Homo sapiens: one gene and its partners. The protein of the gene in region 1 interacts with the protein of each later gene in a biochemical or structural test. Each region holds a gene or a part of one and is shown on either strand. Other genes may lie near its edges.

Region 1 (7,027 bases):
AAGACTGTGTATGGTAGCTTTATTCACAATAGCTAAACACTAGAAACCATTAAAGTGTCCATGAGCAGGAGAATGGACAAAGAAATTGTGGTATATTCACACAATGGAATACCACTCAGCAATAAAAAGAAGCAAACTGTGATCACTCAACAACATGGATAAATCTGAGACATGCTGAGCTGGACATAAGAGTATAAAGTGGCTATTTATATGAAATTCTATAACTAATCTATGGTTACAAACATCAGAATAGATGGAGTGGACTGATCGGAAAGAGAGAAACTTTTATTCTTTTTAATTTAATTTCCTGATGACCTAAAAGAAACAGTTATTCAGGTTAAGTGTAAAGTTTAACAGTTTCTAAAAATATGGCCTACTCTTGTAAATAAAGGTATTTCTTAAAACTGGATTTGTTCCTTTTGAATTAATTTATAGAAAAAAGTCCAATGAATATGTAAAAATACTTTTAGATGCAGTACACAATAACAGGATCTCCTTTTAATATCTATATCTGCTCTATTCAGTTCCCACTGCATGGTAAATTAAATTGAATTTTTCATCAATCAGTATACTAAAATAGGAAGTGCAAAAAATGCCCCTGGTGAAGCTCTTCTGCTATCAAGTGAAGAAGATTCATCTTAGTATTTCCAAAGCTCTGACCTGAACATACTATGATGTGAAAAATTTCCTCCTTGGGTTTTTAGGGTCTTCTCTAACAATCAATAACCACCTAATTTTTATACTCTTCAACCAACTGCTGTTCATTCAGATAATATGTAAGTTTTATTGCTAAAACAGGGTGTCCTGTGCAAATTTCTGACTGATTGTCTGCACTAATGGAGAATAGCAGTAAAAATTTTTCAGGCCGGGTGTGGTGGCTCACGCCTGTAATCCCAACACTTTGGGAGGCTGGGGAGGGGGGATCACGAGGTCAGGAGTTCGAGACCAGTCTGACCAACATGGTGAAAACCCGTCTCTACTAAAAATACAAAAATTAGCCAGGCATGGTGGTGCACACCTGTAATCCCAGCTACTCAGGAGGCTGAGGCAGGAGAATTGCTTGAACCCAGGAGGCGGAGGTTGCAGTGAGCTGAGATTGTGCCACTGTACTCCAGCCTGGGTGAGAGAGCGAGACTCCATCTCAAAAAATAAATAAATAAATAAATTCAGCTCTGCAATATGTTTTAGCATGTAAAAATTTGTATTTAGTATAGTGCCTAGCAAATAACTGAAGCAAATAGAAGGTGTCTAATAACTACTAATCTATTGATTTCCTAAGGATACATTAATTAATTGCTGTTGTTAGCCCTATTATGATATAGAACGTTAACATCTACCCAATTAATCGATGTTATTAATTAACTGACATTATTGTATTATAACACAGCAAGGAGAATTACACTGATTTTTATTTTATTTTATTTTATTTTTGAGATGGAGTTTCACTCTGTCACCCAGGCTGGAGTGCAATAGTGCGATGCTGGCTCACTGCAACCTCGGCCTCCCGGGTTCAAGCAAATTCTTGTGCCTCAGCCACCCGAGTAGCTAGGATTACAGGCATGCACCACCACGCTCGGCTAATTTTTGTATTTTTAGTAGAGATGGGGTTTCACCATGTTGGCCAGGTTGCTCTCGAACTCCTGACCTTAGGTGATCTGCTCACCTCAGCCTCCCAAAGTGCTTGGGATTACAGGTGTGAGCCACTGCGCCCGGCCCTGATTTTCTTTAAAAATAGAATCGTCAGATCTTCTACTAAGAAAATTAGAACGTTTATAGGATTTAGGGTTAAGAAGTACCCCAGAAACCAAAGCTTAATCTTTTTATTTTACAGATGAGGAAATGCAATCTCAGGAAAGTTACAGTTGCTTAATTAAAGGTAGTGAATAGTGGAGTTAGGATTAAAATTAAAATTAAAATACACATCTAAACATTAATTTAATAGCATCCAAACAGCACAACAGAAAAAAATGGTTTTATCATGTTTGCTAACTTGTACACTATTTCAGAATTCTTTTTAATACTGTTAAAACCACTCATCATTATTAGCAGCACTGCCTTCAGATGATCACATCTAGTTTCAGATGTAATACTCCTATTTTCCACTAGGAGGAGAAAAAGCCACAAGAAAAAGCCAGACAAACAACAAGTGACAAGAAACAGAACTTCTAATCTGCCACTAATTTTAAAGTATCACTAACTACTCACTATGCTAAAGGAAGATTTCTTTTTTCAAATTTTGTGGTTTATCTATAGTATAAAACAGTCCGTAACTTTATAAAAATGTGATCTAAATTGTGCATTTGAAGCAGGCTTTAGTGAAAACATTAATTCAAAACAGCCTCAAGCAATGTACAGAACAAATAAAATCTGGCTTACCATTTTTGCTTCTGACTGTACTGGTTGGGGAGAGGAAGGACCTGGGATTCCTGGAACACTAGGCACCATGGTGACTGGTCGAACGAGCTATGCATGACATAAGGAAAAATAATTGCTAGAGAATATATTCAAAATGAGATTTGTACTTTACTGCTGTTGTAATAATTTGAGACTTTAAGAATCAGAACATTGTAAATTTATCACCAGCTGATTTTATCTCTATACCAAATCCTTATTTGGTCTTATATCCTGACTTATCCTTCAAAAGTTGTCAATTTCTGAGACGTGTGCTTTCCTAATTTTCAGTTTCTACAATTTCTTTCTTAATGGTCCCTGTTAGAAATTCATAATATTCAAAGTGATTAATGCAAAAATTCTCAAAGATCTGTCAAACTTCCATTTTGAATATGAAAGGAAGAATGTCAAAACTTGTGACACTTAGGCATAAAAAATAATTTCAACAATGAATTTTGCTTTTCTAAAAATATATACAATGAATTTTCTTATACATACCACATAATAACAAATAACACACTGTAATAATTTCTGAAATAATCTGTAACAGGTTTTACCATTTTGGTTTTTTCCTTTTTTTTCTTAAACCTAACACTGAGTGAACACAGTTACTGTATAAATAAAGCATATCTTTTCTTTCATTTCCGGTTGCTTTCATCACTAGGTACATGTAACAGGATAATCAGAATCTCAAAAACAAGGCAAGAATGTTTCCCTCCTCAAAAAAATATTCTCAGTAAAGAGGAAGCAGATACCTTATATCTGAGTCCTTACAAAGTCTCTCAAATAATGCATTTTGAACAAAGTTCTTTTTAAAGAAGGCACATTATCTTGAAATTACGTCAATCAATGCTAATTTTGGATAGTTTGAAAGATCACGTGGAAGAATTAGTTAATTAAAAAAAGATATAAATATCAAACATTAATCCTAGTAATATTCTTGGGGGTAATCTCACCGAAAGTGTTGGAATGTTACTATAAGTAAGCTTTTAAAAATAAGTTTTATTTTTTATTATTTTTGAGACAAGGTCTTACTTTGTTGCCCAGCCTGGAATGCAGTGGTGCAATCTCGGCTAACTACAGTCTCAACCTCCAGGCTCAAGTGATCCTCCCACCTCAGCCTTCTGAGTAGCTGAGACTACAGGTGCTTCCATCACAACTGGCTAATTTGTGTTTATTTTTTGTAGAGATGGGGTTTTGCCATGTTGCCCAGCCTGGTCTTGAACTCCTGGACTTAGGCAAGCCACCCACCCTGGTCTCCCAAAGTGCTGGGATTACAGGCATGAGCCACTGCACTTGGCCTAAAAATAATTTTTAAAAGCTACACTGTAAATGATTACACTGTACTGATCAGTAACAAGCATCTTAGAAGGTAAAAGAAAAAACTATCTTTTTATTACATAAATAAGTACCTAATGCTTGGTGTAAGATTTCCAGGGAGAGAATAATAGAGAGATTCATAAAGTAATATCGTAAATGATTTAGATGAAAAAGAAAATACTGTGTTCTGGAAACTGTGCTAGATGTCTCAAAAAGTGGTTCTCAGGATGAAAATTTGAATGTCAAAGACATAACTGAAGAGTTTGTTTGAATAAAACTGTTTTATGTAATGTAAGTAAGAAAAAAGCAATTTTCTAACACACATTATTCCAAACAATGTGTTTTTAAATGTTCATTAAACTATTACTTTTTTTTTTTTTTTGACTTGGGGTCTTGCCCTGTCATCCAGGCAGGATCCATAGCTCACTGCAGTCTCAAACGCCTGGGCTCACACAATCCTCCTACCTCAGCCGCCCAATACGCTGGGATTACAACAGGCATGAGTTGCCATGCCTGGCCAAACTATTAAATATCATAAGTAGATAGTTAACTATTTTGTCTACGTCTTTCAAAATTTATATATTTAACACACCCCTCAAAAAACTTTTTTGCGGGGTCTTTTCACAGGGAAAGTGAAAGATTATTTTTCTAGAACATTTACATTTTAACATGCTGGGCTATCAAAGATTCTACAAACCCTACTTGACCACAAAAATTCAGAGTGTGTCTTTATAAACAATTTCCATACTAATAGAAATACCACAGAGTTACCTGACAAGTATTCTAGTACAAATATCTTTCTAAAATTTGAAATCTGTGTTAATATTTGAATGCTACAAGTCCAGTCAAATTGATATGGGTTGAATAAGAAGATCTCAGTATAAAAAAAAAATTAAGGTTTTGGGGAGAAGAGAAAAAATAGCTATACCTTGAATGGTATATGCTATTACAATGATAACAAATAAATACTATCAACTGCTAATCAATATTATGTTAAATTCAATTTCATAAGCCAGTCAAGCAGCCAACTTTATTTTCTGACTACAAAGATCAGTTTTGCGATAGAGATTTAAATAGTCTAACTTTCTTACTGGGACTGCAGCTGGAACATGCACATTAGAACTTGTAATTGATGCAGGAATAGCAACAGGCATGGTTTGTCCATTAGGAAGATGTAACAGAAGAGGAAATGGGCCTGGTACAGGGCTAAGAAAAACAAAAGAAGAGAAATTTTAAAAAAGAGATTCATACCAACTGTCTCTTAAAAATACAATAGTATTTTTACTCCTATAATCATATCATTTAAAAATACATTTTCTAACCACAGCAAAGCAAATAGCAAAATTTAATTATTTTTAATTGCATCTTAAATGCATAACCTGTGTAGCAGTATTGAAAAGAAGAGAAAAGTTATGGATTTACTTAGGACAATCTCCAATTTGTAAAATGAGAAAAACTGTCATCAGAGAGCTCTTGGGAGCTACCAGTAAGAACTGAAAGAAATGGAATCTGGTGATGCAGTAATTTTATATTTTGTGTGAAATAGCATGAAAATAAGACTATCTTAAATTCACATTCTATATTTGTTTTTAGTTGTATTTATCTCCCACTCTGTTAGTTAATATTTATATTAAAGAAGACTACGCAAGTACTTTTTCCAAAATTCGAAGCATGCACACACATACAAAACTAAGATCTTAGTTTGAATAATCAAATGTCTTAGGAAAAATCATTACAAAACAAACTTAATTCATGTATATGTTCAATGATTGGCCTGAATCACTTACACAATTGGCCTGTTAGAGGATGGTGCCTGGGTGATTACAGTACTTGAGGTTGGTGAAGGTACTGCCTGCTGAATAATTACACTTGAGTCAGAACTTGTAAGCAGCACATTGGGAACCTGTAATGATGCTGGACGAACAATAGCTGATGTGGGCTGTGCAGTTTGTGCCAATGGTACTTCCTATTTAACAATGAGATAAAAAAGGGTGGCATTTAAAAATACAAATCATGTACCTTAGTGAACAGAATGTAACACACTTCTAAAAGCATCTACAGAATAATAACTGCTAAAAGCAAATTAATATCTCAAATTAATTAAAAGAACATTTTAGAAGAGCTGTAAAGATTCAAATGCAATGTTCAATTAATATTTTAATTTTAAAAAGACTCGTTTTTTTTTTTTCCAGTACAACTTGTTCTCCTATCAATCCAGAAATAAGTTAGACTGGGCAACTTGGCTATGATACCAAGAGAATTTTAATAAAAAATAAAAATATAATCCATTCTCAGAGAATCACAGAACTTAAAATCCAGAAGGGACTGTTTAGTCCCCCTCCCTCATTATACTGTATGAAGAGGAAACAGGTCCAGTGAGACTGTGTTATGGCTGATACAATTAAGTAACAGAAATAAGAACTTTTAGAGCAATACAAATAATTGTTAATTCCAGTTAGCTACCTCTTCTATATCAATAATTTCTTCATATCAAAAGGCCACGTAATACTGATATCTTGAATGTAAAATAAATAATTACCGGAGTGAACTCTTTCAAGTCAGGAAAACAGAATTTGTCAGCCAAGACCTTAAAGATGGTATTTCCTCTGGTTTTACAAATTATAGAACAAAAAGTTTTAAAAGATTTTACCCAGAACTCCTTAAATAGTCAGTGTAAAAATTGGGTCTATGGTGTTTTATGAATTGGCCTGTATGCTGCCACTTATCATCAAAATCTTATTAAGCTACATAGGAAGAAGGATAAAGTAGTAGTATTGTAACTTCATTTATTCAGTAAGTTGAGAACTTATGCTCCCAAGGACTAGCTCTCAAGGAAGAGACAATAAACAAGTAAAACAAGTAAGAAAATTTCAGATTGTAGTAAATGTTAAGTGTTACAGAATAATACGTGCAATGTAACAAAGGATGAAAGATTAGCTGAAGGTAAGGAAGAGTCAGTTAATTTAGACAGCATAGTAAGAATAGGTGAGCTTCTTTGCAAAAACAGCATTCGAACTGATGATAAAAGGATGAGGAGGAGAGCATTTCATTGTAGGGAGAAGGAAGCAATACCATATATGTCATGTCCTGAGGTAGGAAAAAGCTTTGAATATTTGATGAACACAATAGAGAGGCATGAGGTAAGGATAGATGCGTAGACAGGCCCAGATCAAAGAGGGCTTATGCCAAGGAGTGTGAATTATTTTAAATACAATGGTAGACCATTGAAAGATTTTAAGCAGGTGACATATTTAATGTATTAAAAGTCATCTTACAGAAAATGGATTGGAGGTAGAAGCAGGAAGACAAGTTAGAA
Region 2 (5,887 bases), on another chromosome or scaffold:
GGCCACGAAATGCAGTTCACTTTTTTTTAGGCTTTTATATGGATTATGTTTTGCTGACCCACGCCCGCATTTTCAGATTTTGTATCTAACAGACAGTGCTCAGTGCAAATCAACATTCCAGCGGTCAGGACTGACCCCGGGGCAGCACTGGGCTCAGGCTTCAGCGCGACTGTCCGCATGGCTCCCTCCCGTCCTGGCACCAATTTCTGAATAAAGTCCTTTCTACCAGCTGCTGCTGTGTGGTCACTCTGCGGGTCCCCACGGTGACCTCTGCAGGTCGACACGTTTTCCTTCATGGCCGCACGAAGGCCCCTTACAGGTGCTCACAAGGACTCCAGGTGCGAGATGTGCTCAACCCAGGACTGAAAACGAATCTGCCGGTCCACAGCGACGCCCTCTGATGCCGCAGAGAAAGGCCCGGGCCTGCCAGACGTGTGTCACAACTCAGGCCCCGCCAGGAGGAAAGCTACCGCCAGCACTCCCAGGCCGTGGGAACAAGCAAACGCACCGGCTGGGGCAGGAAACACTTGCTTCTGGTTGTGACTGCAAACAGCCTAAAAGAACGGACTCCCGTAACCACGCTCCTGTGTGCGCACATCCAGGCTCGCCCTCCATTGACAAAAAGGACGTCCCTCATGCTGGATGTGCAGTGTCTTCATCCAAGATCAGGACGGGCGTCTGTCCATCAGTTCTTACAGGCTATTTGCACAGACCCACGGCTGTTCTTGGGTCAATCTGCGCTAAACTCTGCCCAACCCAGCCAGTTCCCACCTGGCAGCCCTGTGGGCAAGACAGAGCTGGGTCCCCCGTCATCACGGTGCAAGCTCGCCGTAACTCTGACCACAGTGGAGCAGGAGGCCAGGACGGGGAGCTCCTGCAGGTGGGGCTTGTGGCCCGGGAAAGGACACTCTCACGGTTGTCACAGGGTAAGACTGGTGGACACCACTCAGGGAGGGGCTCACAGCCAGGGCTTCCAATGGTTTTGGGGTTGTAAACTGTGGATGCTTTTGGGAAAAGAGCTGATGGGTCTTTCGGGAAGTTCCCGTGATGAACGGTGCGGTTATCCGCCTGGAGGGAGGCCCAGGAGAAGCCGAGAAGACAAGATGGTGGAGTCCAATTGTGCTGGACAGGAGCTGCCCGAGACAGGGGGCCCTGGTCCTGGTCATGTGTGCGTCCTCGCCCCCACGCCATGCAGGCCGGACCCCTCACTGCAGTGGCTCCAATAAATTCAGCTCCGCTGAGCACAGGACTTTTCTCTTAGAGAGCTGACAGCCAGCAACCTCATGAGCCTCGCTTCTCGGCGCCATCCACTCCCCGGCTCTGTCCCCCACGCCGCCATCCACTCCCCGGCTCTGTCCCCCACGCCGCCATCCACTCCCCGGCTCTGTCCCCCACGCCGCCATCCACTCCCCGGCTCTGTCCCAGACGGGTTCAAGGCAGGCTGTGCTGTGCACTGCAGTGCCACTGTGGGCTAGACAGTCTGCGCTGGCGTCCTGTGCACCATCATCTCTGATCTCCACCCATCAGATGCCCCCAGCACCCCCAACCCTCAGTTATTAAAAATCTTTTTTTTTTTTTTGAGACAGAGTCTCACTCCGTCACCTAGGCTGGAATGCAGTGGTGCGATCTTGGCTCACTGCAACCTCCACCTCTTGGGTTCAAGCGATTCTCCTGCCTCAGCCTCCTGAGTAGCTGGGACTACAGACACATGCCACGACACCCAGCTAATTTTTTGTATTTTTAGTAGAGACGGGTTTCACTGTGTTAGCCAGGATGGTCTCAATCTCCTGACCTCGTGATCCGCCCGCCTCGGCCCCCCAAAGTGCTGGGTGTCAACAGGCTTGAGCCACGCGCCCAGCCTTTTTTTTTTTTTTAGATCCACCTCCCAGGTTCAAGCAATTCTCCTGCCTCAGCCTCCCTAGAAGCTGGGATTACAGGTGCACATCCAACGCCTCGCTAATTTTTGTATTTTTAGTAGAGATGGGGTTTCACCATGTTGGCCAGGCTGGTCTCAGACTCCTGACCTCAGGTGATCCGCCTGCCTCAGCCTCCCAAAGTGCTGGGATTACAGCCACCACGCCTGCACGCCCCCCTTTTCTTTTTAAGACAGAGTCTTGCCCTGTCACCCAGGCAGGAGTGCAGTCAGGTCATCACGGTACACTGCAGGCTTAACCTCCTGAGCAAAAGGACATCCTCCCGCCTCAGCCTCCCAAGTAGCTGGAACTACAGGCACCTGCTACTACACTCGGCTATTTTTTATTTTTTTGCAGAGATGGGGGTCTCACTATATTGCCCAGGTCAGTCTCAAACTCCTGGCCTCAGGAGATCTGCCCACCTCAGCCTCCCAAAGTGCTAGGAATACAGGTGTGAGCCCCGTGTATGAGTGCCTGGCCAGGAACCACAGATTTCTTGAGAAGTGTCTGAAAAGCTGATTCTAGGACCAGGGTCGGCAAAGGACCAGATGAGGCAGGAGCATCCTGTATTGCCAGGGAGCTGGGAGGGGGTTTCAAAAGGACAAGGAAGAGAGGAGGAGGTGAGAAGACTTTCAATGGCCAAAGCAGGAACGATATGCGCAAAAATACAAATAAAAGCCCGGCACAGGGGCTCACTCCTGTAATCTCAGCACATTGGGAGGCCCAGGCAGGAGGATCACTTGAGCCCAGGAGTTCAAGACGAGCCTAGGCAACATAGCAAGACCCTGTCCCTACAAAAAGTAAAAAAAAAAAAAAAAAACTAGGTGCGTGTGGTGGTGCACACATGTAGTCCCAGCTACCAAGGAAGCTGAGGCTGGAGGATCACTTGGGCCCAAGAGTTCAAGGCTACAGTGAGCTGTGATCAGGCCACTGCACTCCAGCCTGAGTGACAGAAAGAGACCCCATTTGTAAAAAATAATAAAAACAAACAGAACTTTTAAAACAAATAAATAATAACAGCATCGGGTTATGACCTAAAGGATAAAATAAATATACACGAGCCCACACTGTAGAAATAAATGACTGAGTAAATAAATCAACAGGCAGAGAGACAAACCTTACAGAAGAATCCCAGAAAATACAGACACCCCTCCAGGAGGTGGGGCCTAATTACTCTCCCCATGAGTTGGGGATGGGCTGAGGGGCCGGATTCCAGTGACCAGAGCAGGGATGGAAAGGCGATACCTGAAGACTGCAAGAGTGGCAGACAGTCCGCACCCCAGCACGGAGCAGACCTCACCGGTGCTGAGCCACAAGACAGGAGGGGCGAGACTCCACCCCTGCGCCTTCCTTCCTAAAACCCACCACCCTAGTCGGATCACAGGAAGACACCAGGCAAACCCAAGTCGAGGAACATTCAACAAAACACCTGGCCCGTCCTCAACCGTGTCGAGGACGCGAGAAGCTGCCACGGCCCAGAGGAGACCCAGGAGACAGAAGGACTCGGCGCCGTGCGGCAAGGAGGAAGAGCATTTAATAGGAAGAGAATTTCCTCCTCCCAGGGATGCTGGCTGCAGACGCGCTGCAGATGGAAGAAGTTCAGATTTTAAAAGCTACTTCTGCGAGCGCGTGAATTCCGACACCCATTCCCGCGGCTGGCGTGGCTTCTCCTCGGACCCATCCCCTGGCCTGGCGACTCCCCCTGGGACCCGGGTCGGTCCTCCGGACCCCTCGCGTGCAGGTGCTGAGCCCGGGCGGGGGCGGCGGGGGCGGGGGCAGCACTGGGGGCCGGACAAGGGGGCGCCAGCGCCTTCCGGAGCGGGAGGGGCTCCGCACACACCTCGACGGGGGCGGGGGTAGGCTCGGCACAGGCTAAAAACGAGCGGAGCCGCCGGGGCTTAGGCATCGCGGCACCTCCGTTGAACGGGTCTAAGAACAGAACTCCTGAGGACCCTCCGTTTCCAACCGAAGCCAGTCTTTGCTCTGCGTCTTCCCGGCCGCAGCGCCAGGACCGACCCCTTAGGACCCGGCGGGCGGGGCGGGGCGCGCGGGGCGGGGCGGGGATGGTGGGAGGGTCGCGTAGACCCGGCTGGGACGGAGGGACGGCGGCGCGGGATGCTCAGAACGCGTGTGGGCGGCCCGGGCGGCGTCTGGCCCTCTCCCCATCCTCGCGCGCCGCGCCCCAGCCCCGGGATGCTGCTCCGGCCCCGCAGGCCGCCCCCGCTCGCGCCCCCCGCGCCGCCCTCGCCCGCCAGCCCCGACCCCGAGCCGCGGACACCCGGAGACGCCCCGGGGACCCCGCCCCGGAGGCCCGCCTCGCCCAGCGCGCTGGGGGAACTCGGGTTGCCGGTGTCCCCGGGCTCGGCGCAGCGCACGCCCTGGAGCGCCCGGGAGACGGAGCTGCTGCTGGGGACGCTGCTGCAACCGGCCGTGTGGCGCGCGCTGCTCCTGGACCGCCGCCAGGCCCTGCCCACCTACCGCCGCGTGTCGGCCGCGCTGGCCCAGCAGCAGGTGCGCCGCACCCCCGCGCAGTGCCGCCGCCGCTACAAGTTCCTTAAAGACAAGTTTCGCGAGGCGCACGGCCAGCCGCCCGGGCCCTTCGACGAGCAGATCCGGAAGCTCATGGGGCTGCTGGGCGACAACGGGCGCAAACGGCCTCGCCGCCGCTCCCCGGGGTCCGGGCGCCCCCAGCGCGCCCGCCGCCCGGTCCCCAACGCGCACGCGCCGGCTCCCAGCGAACCAGGTAGGCGGGGGACTGGGGGGCCAGGTGGGGCCGAGGACTGCGGAGGAACCGGGGGCTGCCGAGGGCTGCGGGGGAGGGGCGGGCGCGCCCCGCGAAAATCCGCCCGACCGCCTGCTCCGCGTTCCCAGACGCCACCCCGCTGCCCACCGCCCGCGACCGCGACGCGGACCCCACCTGGACGCTCCGCTTCAGCCCGTCCCCACCGAAGTCTGCGGACGCCTCCCCCGCCCCCGGCTCCCCGCCAGCTCCCGCCCCGACCGCCCTCGCCACCTGCATCCCCGAGGACCGCGCGCCCGTCCGCGGCCCCGGGTCCCCGCCGCCACCCCCGGCCCGCGAAGACCCCGACTCGCCGCCCGGCCGCCCCGAGGACTGCGCGCCCCCTCCGGCCGCGCCCCCGTCGCTGAACACCGCCCTGCTGCAGACCCTGGGGCACCTGGGCGACATCGCGAACATCCTGGGCCCGCTGCGCGACCAGCTGCTGACCTTGAACCAGCACGTGGAGCAGCTGCGCGGCGCCTTCGACCAGACAGTGTCCCTGGCCGTGGGCTTCATTCTGGGCAGCGCGGCCGCCGAGCGAGGGGTCCTCAGGGACCCGTGCCAGTGAGTCCCGGCTGCGGCCAGTCTCCCCTCTCCAGGCCGAGGCCCCTCCGCCCTGACCCCTCCTGCTGCCTTCCCACCCCCGTTCTTGGGTATGTTCAATAAAAGGATTGTTTTCCTAGAGTCCGGGCTGTGTAGGAGTGCGGGTCTGGAGACGGGGAGGGAGTGGCGCCCTGCAGTGCTGGGGCTGCAAAGGTCAGGGCAGGGTTGCGACGCTCTCATCACAGAGAGGGGCTCCCACTCGCTCCTAAGGTGTAGACAGAGCTCCGTGGGGCGCACCCAAATGTAGGCCGAGGAGGCCAGGCTCGAGGGTGGTGGGCGTGGTGCCTGCTGCCGGGTCCTGGTCACACACTCGGTTCTCAAGGCCACACCAGACTCTCCCTGCCCCTCCCGGGGAGCCCCACTGAGTAAAACGAAGTGAACGGGTGGGCTCCGCTGGGGGTCCGGAGAGAACCTGAGGCTGACCCCACCTCTTCACTCAATGCAGGGGTAGGGGTTAGAGTGGTCGCCTCCACACTGCCCAGCAGAGAACCCCCTTTGACCCAGGAGTAGCATGGGGGGTTCCGAAGGTCCTCCCATGGCCTCGGGCAGCCTTGGACCACCCGGCTGAACTCTCCCAGGTCCTGGGAAACAA
Region 3 (7,027 bases), on another chromosome or scaffold:
CAATGTCCATTTATGGGTGACACATTTGGGGAAAGGATGGATTTAAGTTTGCAATTAGGTAGGACTCTGTCTTGCTATGCCCCAAGTGTACTGTGTTAGAATTTGTCTATCAATCCAGAATTAGTGCTTTTGAATTTTCTGGCAGATATACCAGGGTGGGGTGAAGATGCAAGATCAAGGCACTGAGAGGCTGCTCCTCCAAAGAGCTGGGATCTTTCAGAGGCTTTTTGGGTTTGTGCAGGTGCCAAGATTGCATAGGGTAGTGGATAGAGACATAAATCCCGGAGCTGGCTGCATCCATCACCACTGTTTACCAGTTGTGGGAGCTCAGGCAAGTTTCCTCAACTTCTGTGTCTTACTTCTCTCTTCTGTAAAATGGAGATATTAACCACATCTACCTACAGGATTGGTATAGGAAGTTAATGAATGAAAAGCACTTAGAATAGTACCTGGCATATGGTAAAGGCCATCTAGGTATTTGCTGACATTGCTGTTAGTGAAAGCCATCAACAAAGTGCTGGCACTATTGTTTCATTACAACGAAAGTAATTGTGTCAGTACAGGTGAATTATGTATAAGCCTTTTCTTTCCAAAACTTCCTTTAAGGTTGTTGTTATGTTGTTTTAAGAAAAAGATCCACTATCTCATTGTAATGTTAATGTTGAGGTACAAGGATAATTATACCACTATATCTTCTTGTTCAGATGGGGAAGTACTCTAATGTGTCCTAGGGATACAAATGAAACCACAGAATATCTGTTGTCAGGTAGGTACTTGAAAAGGGTTTTATATCATAAACTAAGAGCAGAGTCAGTCTCTGAGATGGTCCAGCACTAGTAGGGCACGTAGTCTTTCTAATGAGGTGGGTGGAGAGCCTGGACTTGGAACCAGAAGACCGAGTTGGTTTTGGTGCCTGGCTTTTAGCAGTGCGATCCTGGGCAAGCGGCTTAAGGCCTTGGGCTTGGTTTGCATGTCTGTAAAATGGGGATAGTAATTCCAGCTTACCTCAAAACACTATGAAGTCTGAATAAAAAATGAATGGGAAGAATTTTCACAACTGGTAATTTTTATAAGAATATTAAACATCAATATTGCAAGGGTCTGGAAGGTCTTTTTTCTCTACACACTCGTGCCCACCAACCCTATCCCTACTCCCTCATTCCCATTGCCCTTCTTGAGTCAAGCTCATTTAATTTAAGCTAAAAAATTTTGACTTCTGTTGACATAAAAATATACTTGAGGCCTAGAGGCTATTATAAAGGGAATATTTGGGATTGAGTTCAGGGACTAAATATGTATATACTGGGCATCTAAGGAAAGAAATGGGTATAGAAAGTAAAAGATGGCAGACAAAACATTTTACTAATTAGTTGGTCTGGGAGTGGTCTTTCTAACAGTAAAAGCAAACTGATATAATGTGGCCTAAGAAACTGTTTTAGAATTCAGCAAATCACAAAGTAGATGGTAGGAGTGGCCTTTATTCTCACACAGACCTAGACTCAAATCCTAGCTTTGCAAGTTACTCAGCCTCTCAGAGCTACGGTTTCCCTATCAGTAAAATGAGGCAATAACACCAGTATCCCAAGGTGATGAGGACTGAATAAATTGAGGTAGAAAACACTGGCATATAAGTGAAACTGATCTGTGCAAGGAAGCCTTACCAGGAATTTCCGTTTTTGCTTCCAGTGGCTGCCTTGGGCGTTGGTCGCCACATGGGCTTCGGTGACAGTTTTGATGAGCTCCCATTCCTCGTCTGTGGGCTCTGGCTTGTGCCCGATGGACTTCTGCAGCTCTTCCCGCCGTCTTTTCTCCCGGTTCTCCTCTATCAGCTTCCTCTTGGCCAGCCTCTTGCTGTCATCCAGCACCACTGGGAGGGGGAGAAAGATGAGACAAGGCACACAGATGCTCCCAAGATACACAGCAAGCTGCACTTCCTGGAGCCTCAGGAGTGGGACCACTGATGCACAGATGGCTTACTGGGTCCTTCGGGGTGGGTCACACTGGGACAGTTTCTCTCCTCACCAGCAAACTGCCATTGACTAGTCTTGTCCAACATGGTCTCTAGAGCCAAACTCCCCATGACCGGCCAGCTTTTCAAAACAAAGTCCCCAGAGAACCTAGACACTGCGCACTCCAACTCCACAGAAGGTGGTTCTAAAACAGAGTGAAGCAGAGAGGTAAAATCCATACTACCCACAAGATCACAGAGAAATCTGTCCAGCCAGTCATCCGAATTCACTCTCTGGGTTTCTGTCCTCCCCGCTTCCCCTAAAACGGCTCTTAGTAAAGAGAACTTCAGGTTAAAGAAACGTTATGGAATTAAAAAAAGAAACGTTATGGAGCAGTAAGTGGGAGGCTCGTGATCCCTTTTTTTAAGAGGAAAAAGGACCCCAACTCTTCATGGCTCCCTTAAGGGCTAATTGGAATGTGGCTGGGCCTCACCTGGGCCTCAAGGTACTCACTGTACATTATTCTCTACCTGGTCCACCCTCAAGGGTGGTTAAAGAGTCCAGGCTTTGGAATCTAGAAAGACTTGGGTTTGAATTCTGATATTATTACATTCTAGCTGTGTGACCTCTGGCAAGTTCCTTAGGTTCTCTGAGCTTTCATTTCTTCCTATACAAAATGGGCTCAATAATACCCACTTCACAGAGTATTCAATGTGATAATGCATTATAAGTGCTCAGTAAATGCAGTCCTGACTTCTATCATTTGGGTGAAAGGAAAATCAGAAGGGCAGGTAACAAGAAACCTATATTTCTGTGGTCAATTTCCAAAACCAAAACCGTTTCACTAGACTTGGTAACTATCAATGGAATGGAAAGGCTCAGGTTTTACATTGCAGAGTCATAGTATTTTAGAACTGGAAGGGAACTTAGACGTCATCTAGTCCTACTCTGTCTTTTCACAGAAAGAAGAAGAAATTGATCCAGAGAGGTCGTGACTTGCCTAAAGTCACAGAGCAAGTTAATGGCAGAGCCAAGGCAAGACCCAGGACTCCTGACTCCAGTTCTACGACATCACTGTCCTAGGGCCATTTCTTGATGAAGGTGTGACCTGGTAGGAAAAGAAAAAAAGCAGACATAGCAAGAGAAGGAGAACCAAGGTGCCTAGCTAGTCTCCCATTTAAATATTCTAATTTAAAGAGAATATTAAATTCCAGACCATTTAGATTTGATTGGATTGTCAAAGTCATGTGAGCGCTTACAAATGAGGAAAATATGAATGAGCCCTGTTAAGTCATTTTGGTTCAGTTACTAAAGGGAAAGGAGGAATGGTAATAATACCCTCAACCCCTTCCCAAATGCTTCCGGTGTGCCAGGGACTGTTGTATTTGATGAACATTATCTAATTTAATCTTGAAAACAACTCTACAAGGTAGGCAATGATTTCACAGAAGGAAAATCTCAGCTTAATTCCAAAGGTCACACAGCTAGTAAGTGACAGATCTGGGACTCGAACAGAAGTTTTTCTGATTAGAAAGCCTGAGCTCTTAGAATCCCTCACAAGCAAGTAAAGGGCACTCAAAATTTATTTCCATACAGTCTAGATTAACACTGAGTTTTTAAACCTCATAGACACTAGTATCTTAAACTTCTCAATAGAACACTGAAATAGATAATCAATAATAAGTTTGTCATAGTGGCATATCTAAGTATTTGGCTGTAAGTCAATCATATTCACATATCCCTATCAGGCATATTGTTGGCAAGGGCTAAAGGCCTTTAAGAGATAAAGATAAAGAAAATACTCAGCCAGAGGTGGGGATTAACCCAGGATTTCCAGCCTAACACTCTAACATAACCCTCTTCCTTTTTAAAGATTCTCCATTCCTTCTTCTTTAATGGGCAAACCAGAACATTTCACAGATTTTTTTTTCTCAGTGAAAGAACTCTATTTCTCACATAAAATGTGAGTCATGATTACTTCTTTCATCAGGAAAAATCCTCACTGTATTTTCTTTTTTCTTTCTTCATTTTTTATCTTTCTTTTTCTTTTTAATTTTTAACTAATAGTTGGAATCTCTCACTGATGTGCAAAAAATTTATGCCAGTAGAATCATTAATACTGATGCCTGGCAAAAGGGAGGCCACACATTCTGAATGACATGATTCTTATTTTTATGATTAGATTAATTAAAGTGACTGGTGTAAATCCCTCGCACAGTGTGGGGAGAAGAGACCCCAAGGGCTAATCTCGCCACCATATGCTGTAGCACTTTGAAAACTGGGTAGGACGACTTCAGCTCGGAATGTCTTTATTGCTAAAAATATAACAAACAACCAACTGCAGGATGACTCATGCAATAGCACTCAACTTTGCATTCTTCAGAAATTTCTGAACACGATGTTTTCTGCCAGCGCCCCATCTCCAAAAATGTCCATAAAATAAATTCCTGTCTTTGCTCTTGAAAAAATATTAGGACTAGTCCCTGAGGCTCTACCCCATGTGAACACTGTGTATAGAATGATACCTTATCAAGGTAAATGGACCAGACCTCTCATTTGTAATCTCTGTCTCAAACAGAGTGTTGCTAACAACTAGGCCTGCAAATGTGATAGGGATAATTTAACTGCATTTCCTCCTCCATCATCCATACTTTGACAGTTAGGAGGTGGTATGACAGGGTAGGATGGAACCCACCCAGCAATGGCTCCCACCTCCCTTTCAGGGCAAGCCTGGATGTGGGGAGTGAGGGGTGTATGCGAAAGTAAGGTATTCCCTTCTCTGTCTTCTTGGGTTCCTGCCTTCTTTTCTGCCCAGTCGATCTCCTTGAACCAAACTGTTTCCTAATCAACATTCCTTGAATATGAAGCAAGTGAAGATCTACTTACAATCTGTTGCCATGCCAACATAGATGCATTTCTTAAAGCGACATTCCTGGCACTGATTTCGCGTGACTTTGTCTATGACACATTTTCCTTCATATTTACAGGAATAGGATGGATGGAGATTTTTCTGAATGGTTCTTCTAAAGAAACCCTATATGAAAAACAAAGACCCAAGACAACAGTTTCATATTTTCTTGAAATCAGTGATTCTGGAATTTTGTGTCCATATAACTATGAGATGAATCGTTTTGGACCTTAACCTGTTTCTAGGCCTCTAGCTCCACATATTCAAATATAAGACAGTTGGCCCAGAAGGATCTAGAGAGTTCTAAATCTGAGCTGATGATGCCATAGGACTACAGAGTCAACACCTTTTTTTTTGGTCTTTATTCAAGGAAAAGAGGCTAGTAGGAACATCTAGCGCTTGTTTTTATTTTTTCTAAATATTGAATATATAAGTAAATTATACTGTTCTATTTCATATACTGACATAATTGTGTTGCTAAATTAAGCTATGAGGAGTTTTGCTACTTTATACTGAGTAATAAGAGAGCTCCAAGACCAAGAAGAAAGTGAAAAAAATGAAAAGACATGGATACTTGCAATACTTTATTAATTAAAAATCTAATAATTTAGTAATTAAACAGATGTACTAGCTGGCTTCCTGGATTTAGTTTAATACTTGTTTTTGAATCTTGAGACAGCCATGATCAGCTCACTTAGCCTTTCAAACAATAGGACTCAGGGAGTAGAACGCTCCAGGTTTTCTACCAAGTTTTTCCCCATAGCTCATTGCATTGAGGTTTTCCTTTTATAACACTCTTTCTTTGGTATCTGTAGACATACACCTACAGGTTCAATGATTCTTCCTTTCTTAAGGCATGAGAGAGCACCTCTGTAGCATCTGGGGACACTGTTTAGTTCTAGGTTTGGGTGACTTAGGTAATATTCTCAAGAATGTGCAATACTAGAATTTTTCTGGACGTGATCCTCAAGTTGAGGCAACTGTCATCTGTATTGTAGAAGTTAATAACAGCAGTGAGCACTTATTGTGAGGGCACATTGCTAAGTGCTGTAGAAACATTCAATATCCTTCTATCTTCCCTACAATCATGTAAAGGAGGTGCTCTAAATATTTCCATGGTAGGGATTAAAAAAGTAAACCTCAGACAGGTTAAATCGCTTGCCCAAATCACATGGTAAGTACATGTGGGAACTTCAGGTAGGATGGAAACCACCCAGCAATGACCCCCACCTCCCTTGCAACCCAGGAGCGGCACTCCACATCTTACTTGCTTAACTGCTTATATGATGTATAATGAAGTAAATTTTACTGTATTACTTGAATGTTTTAGATCAACAGATTATAAACAGTCCTGCCCCAGCCACTTAAAAAGTTCATTTTAACTGTTGGTAGGATAACAAGGCAAAATGAGTGTTTTAAAATGTAAGAAATTAAAAAAAATTTTTTTTGAGACAGAGTCTCGCTCTGTCACCTAGGCTGGGGTGCAGTGGTGCGATCTTGGCTCACTACAACCTCCACCTCCAGGGTGCAAGTGATTCTCATATCTTAGCATCCAGAGTAGCTGGGATTACAGGCGTGTGCTACCACACCTGGCTAATTTTTGTATTTTTAGTAGAGACGGGGTTTTGCCATGTTGGCCAGGCTGGTCTCGAACTCCTGGCCTTCAGTGATCCGTCCTCCTTGGCCTCCCAAAGTGCTGGGATTATAGGCGTGAGCCACCACGCCTGGCTAATTTTTGTATTTTTAGTAGAGATGCGTTTTTGCCATATTGGCCAGGCTGGTCTCCAACACCTGGCCTCAAGTGATCCGTCTGCCTCCGCCTCCCAAAGTGCTGGGATTACAGGCATGAGCCACTGTTCCTGGTGGCAAAACAAGTTTTGATGGATGTCTTCTGCTAAGGCCTAAAGGGGTCCTCTAACTTTGCTAGATAAATGGTGGGAAATATCAGTTGATCTAGATTCAGCCCAAATTTTTATGATCCCGGTTAATGTTCTTTGGCTTTGATTATATACGTATACCCTATTGCATATTCCTCCTTCAGACACAAAAGCTCTTTCTTATTATGAAAATGCCCGAGGTAGGATTTTATATTGGGCAAAGCAGAATAAAATAGAAAAACATCAGGAATAACTGAGACTAACAGACTTGATTTTGGGGCGTATATGCAAAT

Evidence for each region. Proteins that work in one complex are often made in the same cells at the same time.
Region 2: the proteins of ATF2 (region 1) and UTF1 form a complex in vitro, tested with the Homo sapiens proteins (one study listed by BioGRID).
Region 3: the proteins of ATF2 (region 1) and THRB form a complex in vitro, tested with the Homo sapiens proteins (one study listed by BioGRID and IntAct).

The regions. Positions count from the first base shown.
Region 1 is NC_000002.12:175,109,192-175,116,218, forward strand, and holds part of ATF2 (cyclic AMP-dependent transcription factor ATF-2), read right to left. Parts: intron 5,678-7,027; coding exon 5,499-5,677; coding exon of another isoform or gene 5,495-5,498; exon of another isoform or gene 5,052-5,494; intron 4,918-5,051; coding exon 4,803-4,917; intron 2,464-4,802; coding exon 2,377-2,463; intron 1-2,376. UniProt on the Homo sapiens protein: Transcriptional activator which regulates the transcription of various genes, including those involved in anti-apoptosis, cell growth, and DNA damage response.
Region 2 is NC_000010.11:133,226,183-133,232,069, forward strand, and holds UTF1 (undifferentiated embryonic cell transcription factor 1), read left to right. Parts: upstream 1-4,034; 5' UTR 4,035-4,106; coding exon 4,107-4,656; intron 4,657-4,784; coding exon 4,785-5,260; 3' UTR 5,261-5,376; downstream 5,377-5,887.
Region 3 is NC_000003.12:24,141,840-24,148,866, forward strand, and holds part of THRB (thyroid hormone receptor beta), read right to left. Parts: intron 4,984-7,027; coding exon 4,836-4,983; intron 1,868-4,835; coding exon 1,662-1,867; intron 1-1,661.